Linked DNA regions of Homo sapiens. The protein of the gene in region 1 interacts with the protein of each later gene in a pairwise test. Each region holds a gene or a part of one and is shown in the gene's direction. Other genes may lie near its edges.

The links.
Region 2: the proteins of ZNF143 (region 1) and ZNF512B interact in binary tests that used the Homo sapiens proteins (3 or more experiments, as listed by UniProt).
Region 3: the proteins of ZNF143 (region 1) and POGZ interact in binary tests that used the Homo sapiens proteins (3 or more experiments, as listed by UniProt).

The regions. Positions count from the first base shown.
Region 1 is NC_000011.10:9,519,989-9,523,736, forward strand, and holds part of ZNF143 (zinc finger protein 143), read left to right. Parts: intron 1-3,748. UniProt on the Homo sapiens protein: Transcriptional activator. Activates the gene for selenocysteine tRNA (tRNAsec). Binds to the SPH motif of small nuclear RNA (snRNA) gene promoters. Participates in efficient U6 RNA polymerase III transcription via its interaction with CHD8.
Region 2 is NC_000020.11:63,956,183-63,959,930, reverse strand, and holds the end of ZNF512B (zinc finger protein 512B), read left to right. Parts: coding exon 1-43; 3' UTR 44-3,227; downstream 3,228-3,748. Other genes in the region: UCKL1 (uridine-cytidine kinase-like 1), read left to right, coding at 3,559-3,671. UniProt on the Homo sapiens protein: Involved in transcriptional regulation by repressing gene expression. Associates with the nucleosome remodeling and histone deacetylase (NuRD) complex, which promotes transcriptional repression by histone deacetylation and nucleosome remodeling.
Region 3 is NC_000001.11:151,452,836-151,456,583, reverse strand, and holds part of POGZ (pogo transposable element with ZNF domain), read left to right. Parts: intron 1-1,681; exon of another isoform or gene 1,682-2,557; intron 2,558-3,748. UniProt on the Homo sapiens protein: Plays a role in mitotic cell cycle progression and is involved in kinetochore assembly and mitotic sister chromatid cohesion.

The DNA.
Region 1 (3,748 bases):
CAACCTGGGCAATGTAGCAAGACACTGTTTCCACCAATTTTTTTTTTTTTTTTTTTTTTTTTTTTTGAGACGGAATCTCCCTCTGTCGCCCAGACTGCAGTGCAGTGGCCCAATCTCGGCTCACTGCAACTTCCGCCTTCCGGGTTCAAGTGATTCTCCTGCCTCGGCCTCCTTAGTAGCAGGATTACAGGCACCCACCAGCATGCCCAGCTAATTTTTGTATTTTTAGTAGAGAGGGGGTTTCACCATGTTGGTCAGGCTGGTCTCCAACTCCTGACCTCAGGTGATCCACCCGCCTCGGCTTCCCAAAGTGCTGAGCCACTGTGCCTGTCCAATTTTTTTTTTTTTTTTTTTTTTTAATTAGCAAAGCATGGCAGCATATGCCTGTAGTCCCAGCTACTCTTGAAGCTGAAGTGGGAGGATCACTTAGCCCAGGAGGTTGAGGCTTTGGTGAGCCATGTTCATTGTACTACAGCCTGGATGACAGAGCAAAACCCTGTCTTCTAAAAAAAATAAAAAAGAGGCCAGGCACAGTGGCTCATGCCTGTAATCCCAGGAATTTGGGAGGCTGAGGCAGGTGGATCACAAGGTCAGGAGTTCGAGACCAGCCTGGCCAGCATGGTGAAACCCTGGCTCTACTAAAAATACAAAAAATTAGCATGGTGTGGTGTGCACCTTTAGTCCCAGCTACTCAGGAGGCTGAGGCAGGAGAATTGCTTGAACCCGGTAGGTGGAGGTTGCAGTGAGCTGAGATTGCACCATTGCACTCCAGCCTGAGTGACAGCGAGACTCCGTCTCAAAAAAATAAAAAATAAAAAAGAATTCTGTTTGTTTCATATTATCACCAACATTTGGAGTTGTTTTAAAGTTTTAGCCATTCTACTGGATGTTAAGTGGTCTATCATTGTGGTTTTAATTTACATATAAAAAAGCTAATATATCACTTGGTTATGATGTATTTTTGTATTTTGCTGGATTCAATTAGCTAATATTTTTTAAAGATGATTTTTTAGAGCTGTTATAGGTCACCACAAAATTGAGAGGTAGGTACAGAGACTTCCCTTACACTCCCTGCCCCCACACATACATAGCCTCCTGCATAATGAACACCCCCACCAGAGGAACACGTTTGTTACTGTTGAAACCTACACGTACACATCACAATCACCCAGAGTCCATCATTTACATCAGGATTCACTGTTAGTGTTGTACATTCTATGGGTTTGGACAAACGTATGATGACATACATCTATCAATAGAGGATCATACTCTATTAGAGTATTTTTACTGCCCTTAAAATCCTCTGTGACAATTTGCTAATATCTTGTTAAGGATTTTGGTGTCAATGTTTATGAACCATATTGATCTATAATTTATTATGAAATTATAAGAAAAAGTTTCATCTCCTGTTTCAATATCAGGGTTAGGCTTGCCTCATAAAACAAGTTGGGAAGTGTTCTCTTCTGTACTATTTTCTGATAGTTGTGTAAGATTGGTATTATTTCTCCATAAAAGCTTGATAGAGTTAATTAGGACACCACCATCTATGCCCAGAGTTTTCTTTTTGCGGAGGTTTTTTTTTGTTTTTTTTTTGTTGTTGTTGTTGTTGTTTTTTACTATGGATTCAAGTTTTTAAGTGGATCTATACTATTCAAGTTATCTATGTTTTTTTGTATCCATTTTGCTAAGTTTTGTTTTTGTAAGTTTGTCTGTTTCATCTAAGTTTTCATATTTATTGATATAAAGATGTTCATACTATTTCCTTATTATCTCTTTAATATACATAGGATCTGGGGGCCGGGTGCGGTGGCTCATGCCTGTAATCCCAGCACTTTGGGAGGCTGAGGCAGGTGGATCACCTGAGGTCAGGAGTTCAAGACCAACCCAGGGCAACATGGTGAAACCCCATCTCTACTAAAAATACAAAATTAGCCAGGTGTGGTGGCGCATGCCAGTAGTCCCAGCTACTCAGGAGGCTGAGGTGGGAGGATCATTTGAGCCCAGGAGGCAGAGGTTGCAGTGAACTGAGGTAGCACAGCTACACTACAGCCTGGGCGACAGAGGGAGACCCTGTCTCAAAAAAAAAAAAAAAAAAAGTCAGTGGAAGGTAAAGCAATTCTTAGAGGAAAATTTCTTTTAAATGCTTGTATTGGAAAAAAAAGGTTTAAATTGAATGATCTTAGTTTCTACCTTAAGAAAAATTAAACAAAAAAAGTAAATGGAAGGAAATAAGGACTGGGCGCAGTGGCTCACACCTGTAATCTCAGCACTTTGGGAGGCTGAGGCAAGTGTTCCCGAGTAGCTGGGACCCAGGCTGGCCTCAAACTCCTGGGCTTCAGGGATCCCTCAGCCTCAGCCTCCCAAGAAGCTAGGACTGCAGGTACAAGCCACTGCTTCTGGGGAAAAAAAAAAAAATTTAAATTGTCTACTGCCCTTCTGGAACTCTAGTTACATGTATATTAACTAGGTGTTGTCTTACAAGTTGCTGGGAATCTATTTGGCTTTTTTGTTTTTTGTTTTTTTGAGACAGTTTTCGCTTTTGTTGCCCAGGCCGGAGTGCAATGGCACGCTCTCGGCTCACTGCAACCTCCGCCTCCCGGGTTCAAGCGATTCTCCTGCCTCAGCCTCCCAAGTAGCTGGGATTACAAGCACCGGCCACCACACCTGGCTAATTTTTGTAATTTTAGTAGAGACGGGGTCTCACCATGTTGGTCAGGCTGGTCTCGAACTGCTGACCTCAGGTGATCCACCCGCCTTGGCCTCCCAGAGTGTTGGGATTACAGGTGTGAGCCACCACACCTGGCCTATTTGGGGTTTTTAACAATCTTTCTCAAGGTTCTTCAGATGGAGAATGTATATTAATTTGTCTTTGACCTGGTTCTCCTCCCTCAGCCTCCCGAGTAGCTGGGACTACAGGCACCCGCCACCATGCCCAGCTAATTTTTTGTATTTTTTTTTTTAGTAGAGGTGGGGTTTCACCATGTTGGCCAGGCTGATCTCGAACTCCTGACCTCAGGTGATCCACCCACCTCGGCCTCCCAAAGTGCTAGGATTACAAGCGTGAGCCATCATGCCTGGCTAAGCAATTGTAATTTTTAAATTGCATTCTGGACCTTGTGGATGACACATTATAGAGATTCTGAATTTTGTTATCTTTCTCTGGAGAATATTGATTTTTTTTTTCTATTAGCTAGTTAAATTACGTGTTGTGGCTGGGTTTTGTACTTTGTTAAGGCAGGTCTGTTTCAGTGTTGCTATAAGGTCTTAGGGTGAATATTTAGTCCTGGGACGTAATCTTACCTCCTAACTTGGTAAGATTGAAACTTCAAATTCCGTCTCTCTTTGGTGAGTTGCACTGAAAGCTCTCCTTAGTTTCTCAGCCTTCTAGATGCTGCTTTGCCAGTCTTGTTGGAATGTTGTTGGAAACCGGAAATATTTGTGTTGAGGGGTCTTAAGGATTTGAGGCCGGGCGCGGTGGCTCACGCCTGTAATCCCAGCACTTTGGGAGGCTGAGGCGGGCGGATCACGAGGTCAGGAGATCGAGACCATCCTGGCTAACACGGTGAAACCCCGTGTCTACTAAAAAATACAAAAAATTAGCTGGGCGTGATGGCGGGCGCCTGTAGTCCCAGCTACTCGGGAGGCTGAGGCAGGAGAATGGCGTGAACCCGGGAGGCGGAGCTTGCAGTGAGCCAAGACGGCGCCACTGCACTCCAGCCTGGGCGACAAAGTGAGACTCCGTCTCAAA
Region 2 (3,748 bases), on another chromosome or scaffold:
CACCGGCCGGAAGGTGGGAGTCAGCAAGGCGCCTGAAAAGTGAGCATGGTGCGTGGGGCCTGGCCCCCATGCAGCCGCCACACCGCCCTCTGTTCAAGGCAGGGCCAGCTCCGGGACCTCTGTCCTCCAGTTCTCCATCCCCCACCCCCGCCTCTTCATCCGTCCAGTGGGGCAGCCAGCCACTCTCCCTTCCCTGAAGGTGGCCCTTCCCCTGTTAAGGCTGCCACAGGGCACACCTGGGTTGGGGCTCCCCAAGGTGTGCCCAGCAGAAGTGCAATAGCCAGGAGGGTTGCCCCTCCTCATGGGAATGTGTCTGGGGTCTTGGTGCCACAGGGGCTGCAGCGCAGAGTAGGCAGATGGCCTTTGGCCCCCCGGCTCCGCTTCCTCAGGCCCTGCCGGGTCCCTTCCCTGGCTACCCCAAGGCTCAGGCATCCCTGGTGACCTGTGGTTCTGGGCTGGTGAGGGCACCTGAGCAACCTGGCACGGGCAGCCACCATCCTGGCCTCACCTCCACCCAACACTGGAACTCCAGCACCCCCAGCTACCTCCCAGGACAGACCCCTGTCTGACCACTGCCATGCTGACCTGACAGGCTCCGGCCTGCCCTTGGCCACCCACTTGGTCCCCTTGCTTCTGTTTTCTACCTCTCCAGGCCTGCCCACTACCCCCACCCCTGCTCCTCCTTTGTCAGTGCGATCCCTGCTGTGCTCAGGCCCTGCCCCCCAGGCCTGTCTGTAATTCTCCCAGCTTGGGGCAAGGGAGGGGTTTTGCTTCTTGTACCTACAGGGCAGCAGAAGCTTGATGCCCTTCAACACAGCTGCCAGCCCTGGGGGTGTGGGGCCCCTGGAGTGTGCTCTCCTCCAGTGTTCAGCCTTCTGGCACTGCAGGCCTAGGTTGGAGCAGCCTCGTGGAGTAGGGACGGACTAGTTCGGGCCCTGGGGTCTTGCTGGGGCCCATAGGCATGTGGGGCAGGAAGCTGGGCAGAGCTGGCCTGGCTCTGAGTGGCCACTGGGGGAAAGGCAGCCTTCTGTCTGCCAATCTGGGTAGGCCCAGTGGCCAAGCTCTCATGGGAGCCCCCTCCCCACTTTTTTTTTTAACCTGCCCCCATTGTTTCTGGTTGTGTGGTCATTTGATATGGGAACTGAAGGCCAGCCAGGGGAGGGGCTTGGCCAAAGTCACAGCAGGTTGATGGCAGCTCCAGAGCTGTCTTTGCCCCTTTGTGGCCCTGAGGACGGCTGGGTCTATAGGTAGGGCAGGGGTCAGGCAGGGAGTCCAGGGTGCCTGGAAGAGGTGGCCACAGCCTGTGGCTCCCTCCCTGGGGTCCTGCCTTCCAACCACGGCATTGCAGGGAGGATGAGGCTCAGAGGGGGTAGGTTTGGAGGGAGGCCATTTTCCAGGGTGGGTGGGAGTGGGCTGAGGGCTCGGCCCCACTGACCCTGGACGATGAGAATTTTGATGTTTGCCCGTGTGCGTGTGTCTCCTGGGTGTAGTGGATGCCAGTCTTGTTGCTGTGACAAGTAACAACCTTTTTTTTAAATTGTTTTTTATACAAACACTCGCAATCCGACATTTGGTGCTAAGGGTTTCCTGGTGCAGACGGTGGGCCTGGGGGCTGGGCTGGACCAGGGCGTGGGTCTCTGGGGTTGGGGTCCCTTGCTGCTCAGGGAGGCAGTACTGACTGGGCACTGCCTCTGCCCCCAGCACCCACCCTCCCCCATTCCCCAGGGAGAAGGGGCCCCACTGGGCTTGGCCTGCAGTAGTAGGGAGACAAGTTCCAGGAGCACTTTGGGGACTGGGGTTGCAGAACACTTCCTGTCTCTGGCTTCATCCTTGGGCCAGAAGGCTCCAACCCTCAGCAGCCCTTGCCAGATGTGCCAGGGAGTGGGTGTGGAGACCCGGACTCCCCCCACCCACGCACACCTCGGCCTGATGAGAGGATGGAGGCTGGGGCAGAGATGGGCGTGACCCAGCGTCAGAGGGTCGGGGGAGGCATTCCTTCCTGTGTCCCAGAGCTTCACTGGTGGAGCTGGAGGAGCCGGAGGTGGAGGGTGGGGTCTGGCAGCTGCTGCTGGGGCAGCCTCATGAGGGGAGGGGAGGGGAGGGGAGGGGAGCAGGCACTGGGCGGGGGCCTAGGTGCACTTTGTCCTTGCCACCAATGGCGGGAGGAGGGTGGACCTGAACACCTGCAGGGTGTGGTGCCTGCCCCAGCCTCTCAGGTACTTGGCCCTTGGGGAGAAGAGAAGAGGGTCTGGTTTTTGCTGGGGGTGAGTTTCCGGGACACTCCCAAAGCCCACAGATAATCCCTGGTGTGGGAAGAGGAGTCCTGGATACCTTGATGTTTAGCACTTTAACCCCCTTTGTCTTTAAGGTAGGCGTGGGGGCTACTGCCAGAAGTGGCTGTTGGGTCTGACCCCCTCCTTTCTGCCCTCCCTCTGCCACATGCTGGTCCGCAGAGCCCTCCTCCCAAGGGGTGGGGCCCTGGGTGGAGCTCAGCAGGGTCTGCCCACTCCCTACGCTGGCCCACATAGGCCTCCAGGAGCCCTCAGTGAGAGGGACCAGCATAGCTGACCCCCAGAGTGTGGTGGGCGCCGGCCCTGCCCGAGGCCCAGTCGGGGCCCTTTCTGCAGATCTACCTCTGGCTCAGCGCACGCCCCCTGCCCTGAGAACAGGAAAGGGCCCGGAAGGGCTGACTCACCGGGCCGACGCTCACACGAAAATGGGATGCACTTTATTTGCTGGTGCAAAGGCAGGTGAGGGTGCCTCCTGTGTGACCGTTGGCCCTCCTGCCTGGTGGCGCTGAAGGGAAGGAGCCAGTGAGCCTGACCCCGGGAGGGGCCGTCCCCGTGTGCCGCGTTTGGCGGGGCCCCAGGCGGCTCCCCCAGGCCCGGGTCTGGGGCCCCAGGCTTTCCCCTGCCTCGCGGCCGGGCGTCCCGTGCTTTGGGTTTCTTGGTTTGGGTTTTTTAATGCCAGTTCTCAGTACATAAGTGCATTTTGAAAGAGGTTCCAGCTATCACTTGTAACCATATATATATACATATATATTCTATCTACAAAGTGTTTATTTGCGAGATGTTTCAACGGTGAGTTCGGGCCCCGCCCGCCTTGTGACCATCTGTCCCCGGTCCTCGTCCCCGCCCCGCGCCCTGGTCCCGAGTGGCGTGGGGACGGGCCATCACTGTATGTATTAAAATGACTGTATCAAATAAATGTTTATTGATTTTTTTCCAGGGTTTTTGTGCGGCTCAGTTTGTGGTGAAAAACAGGGGGCGGGGCCCTCCAGGCACGTGGCGGAGGCTGCCGAACTACGGGTCCCCCATGCCCGCCGCGCGGCCTTGTGGGGCTTGTAGTCCGCGACGCGCGGCCTTGTGGGGCTTGTAGTCCGCGACGCGCGGCCTTGTGGGGCTTGTAGTCCGCGACGCGCGGCCTTGTGGGGCTTGTAGTCCGCGACGCGCGGCCTTGTGGGGCTTGTAGTCCGCGGTGGGCAAGAGAGGGACCCGCCAGCTCCCGGCGGCCCATGCGCGCCGCCCGGCCAGGCCCGCAAAGAGGCCTCCGAGCGCCATGGCTGCGCCCCCGGCCCGCGCGGACGCTGATCCTTCGCCCACGTCGCCACCTACGGCCCGAGACACACCAGGCCGGCAGGCTGAGAAAAGCGAGACCGCGTGCGAGGACCGGTAGGCGTGGGCCTCGCCTCCACTCCACTGGCGAGCGGGAAGGGGCTGCAGATCCGGCCGAGCTGGGCGGGTGGTCC
Region 3 (3,748 bases), on another chromosome or scaffold:
CTGCCTAGGGAGGTGTGATTGTTGTCATGAAGGAAAAGCATTTGTGAGATTGGGTTGTGAATGAATGGCTTATTTCATGGAGTAGCATTTTTACTTGAAAGAACGACTAGCAGACTATGGTTTTTCACACTTAGTATTTGGCAGATATTTCTTGAAAATGAAGTGAGCTTGTCACTTTTAGGAAAACAACTGACAGTATTTATTACCAGTGATAAAATTTGGGTGAAAATTAGAATTTTTAAAAAGTTGACAGCTGGAGTTTGACAGCTTCCTAGTACTTAAAAGACTTTCCTTATGATATCAGTGGTTAAGGACTGCAATATTTTAAAATGTTGTTTAATGAAATATGTTATTTGGAAGATGGGCATAACTCAGTAAATCTAGGCTTTGCAAATGACCAATGCATGATGTTGCAAAATCAAGCAAAGGCAAAAGATCCTTTGAAAATTCCAGACATAGCAATGGATTTTAACAGTAAAAAAGTGGATTGATGTGGTTTCAGATTCCAAAATGTTAACTGTCCTTTAAGAAACTACTATTTGGCCTAGCGTGGTGGCTCACTCCTGTAATCCCAGCACTTTGGGAGGCCAAGGTGGAAGGATTGTGTGAGCCCAGGAGTTGGAGTTGAGCCTGGTCAGCATAGTGAGACCCTGTCTCTATTTATTAAAAAAAAAAAAAAAAAAAAAAAAGAAAGAAACTACCGTTTGTTGAGTTTTAGTATTTACCAAACACAGTTATCTGAAAAGGTTATTAAAATACTTCTCCCTTTTCCGACTAGATTTTCATTATATACTTAACCAAAGCTACATATAGCAACAGACTGAATGCAGAAGTAACTGTGAGAATCCAACCATCTTTTATCAAGTTAGACATAAAAGAGATTTGCAAAATGCAAAACAACGTTACTTTTCTCACTTTTTGGAGGGAAAGTATTTTTTGTTGAAATGTTATTTATGTTAACTTATAATGGGCTTGTCTTAAAATACATTGATAAATACTACATTTTAAAAATTTGTGGTAAATGTGGAAAGATAAAATTCACATAAACAAAAGATCTTTGGCGTCTTCAATAATTTTAAGAGTCAAAAAAATGAGAATCATTCAGTCAGTCCTATGTTTCTGCTCTTTACATCATTCAAATCTAACTCCCTTGGGGAACTTGGGAGAATTTATAAATAGTTGAAGTTGATGGAAGAGGCAGTGACCTGGGGAAGAATTCTAAAGCAAAAAAAGCTTGCTTTGAATCCTAACTGGGATATTTACTAACTGTAACCTTGAGGAAGTTACTTCGTCTCTCTAAACCACTGTTTTGACCTTATCTGTAAAATAAAAACTTTAGAGCTGGTTGATTACAAATCCTAGAGCTGGTTAATGCCTTTGCCATAATATCAATATGGTAACATTTTGATAGATTCTTTGGTATTCTTGTTTGTGATATTAAGCCATATTCACAAAAACTTGTCTTTTTTTTTTTTTTGAGATGGAGTCTCGCTCTATTGCCCAGGCTGGAGCGTAATGGCGCAATCTCGGCTCACTGCACCCTCCGCCTCCTGGGTTCAAGCGATTCTCCTCCTTCAGCTTCCTCAGTAGCTGGGATTACAGGCACGCGCCACCACACCTGGGTAATTTTTGTATTTTTCTAGAGATGGGGTTTCACCATATTGATCAGGCTGGTCTCAAACTCCTGACCTCTTGATCGACCCGCCTTGGCCTCCCAAAGTGCTGGGATTACAGGCGTGAGCCACCACGCCCAACTGAAAAACGTATTTTTATATGTAACCAAGGGGAGGAGAGCAGAAAAGAGACACTAACCTATTGCTAGGTGTTAGCAGAGTTAAAAGAAATTGAAAGCATAGAAATGGAATTTAGGCAACACACAGCTGTCATTGAAGAAAAGTTTTCCATCATAGTATAGATATTTTTCTTGGGAAAGGGACTCCTGAATATTGAACCCCTTTAAAGAAGAGAACTTGTTGCTTACTTGTTTTAGTAAAGAGCACAGAACTAAATATTTGGGTGTTTCTTGATACAGGATTGGCTACCAGACAAGAGGAAAGTATTTTGAGTTTGGAAATTTTAGGTTATTAAGACTACTTAAAACCCTTATGATTCTTACATATGAGGTACTATAACAGATGTTGTGAGGGACAAAATGGGCTGTGCAAAAGACTGGATAAATAAAAGCTTATTACATGTTTAACTATAGTTTTATACACAGATTAAGTATTCAGCCCTATAGGTTTTCTGGTATTAGTCCTTTTTAGAGCCAAAAATTGAGGTAACTTGAAAACATAATTACCAGTTATGTTGAGGATTATCATTGTTTATTTTTCACCCTGGAACAAGAAAGTGGTATTCTTAAAATGTTTGTTTTCTGTAAAATATTTTTCCTGTTCCAAATGTTCTTTTTATGTTGATTTTTGGGCAGGTATGTACTGGCAGTAAGTTGAAAACGTTAGATACCAAATTCTTCATTTCTGAATTCTTCATTCTTCATTTCTGGACTTTACAGCTATGAAAGAACAAGACAAAGGAATTCAGAGCTTTCAAGAACCAAGTATGTCAGGATAGTTGTGGAAAACAGATCTTTTTCTCATTTTCTTTGAGATGAAGATAGGCAACATTTGCTGCCCATTAAATACCTTAAAAGTATACAGGTGTATCTGCAGGATTCTTTTTGCTGCTTTTAAATAGTATATTGTTTTAAAAGGTCTGTTTTTATCTTGCCTTTACAATTATATAGACTTTTATTGACTAGCTGATCATATAGGGCCTTAGTATAGACTACCATATTCGCCAGCATTTAAGAAATAGTCCCCTTCCCTCCAGGAGAGTATTTATCTGGTACTCCCATATTATGGATTGAAGGATGAGACAAGAGACTGAGTATTGCTAATAGTTCTGTGTGAGCCTGCAGTGTTAAGTAAAACCTATTGAGTGCACAAAAAAATCATGTTACAATTACTACAAAATAGAGAAACCACCTAGGTTACCAAGATGTCAAATAATGGATTAATGGAAGAAAGTAATGTACCTCCTTGGTAGCCTACATAATCCACCTTAATTTGTTATTTCTTATTTAACTATTTTGCTATGTCTTAAGAAATGTATATTAAGTGAAAATGGATGCATAAAAATAAAAAAAGAGAAATGTATATATACAAGCTACATGAAAATTGGTCCTGGGAATAAATCAAGAAATTCAACCAACAAGGCTACCAGTTATTTAGTAAATACCAAAGAGATAGGTGGAATGTAGCAGTACAGAATATCACAGCTAAGATATGAGTAGGTAGTTCCACTCCCTCCTACCCCACCTCAGTTTTTATTAAGAAAATTTCACGCATGCGAAAAGGGAGAAAGAGGCTGGGCGCAGTGGCTCACACCTGTAACCGAAGCACTTTGGGAGGCCAAGATGGGCGGATCACAAGGTCAGGAGTTCAAGACCAGCCTGACCAACATGGTGAAACCTGTCTCTACTAAAAATACAAAAATTAGCTGGGCGTTGTGGCGCATGCATGTAATCCCAGCTACTCAGGAGGCTGAGGCAGGAAAATCACTTGAACCTGGGAGGTGGAGGTTGCAGTGAGCCAAGATCACTCCAGCCTGGGCAACTGAGCGAGACTCCATCACAAAAAGAAGAAAAAAGAAAAGGGTGAAAGAATTCTACAAGGAACACTTAAACTATCCACCACCTAGACAGAGTGACTTTTTTTTTTTAAGACAGAGTCTCGCTCTGTTGCCTAGA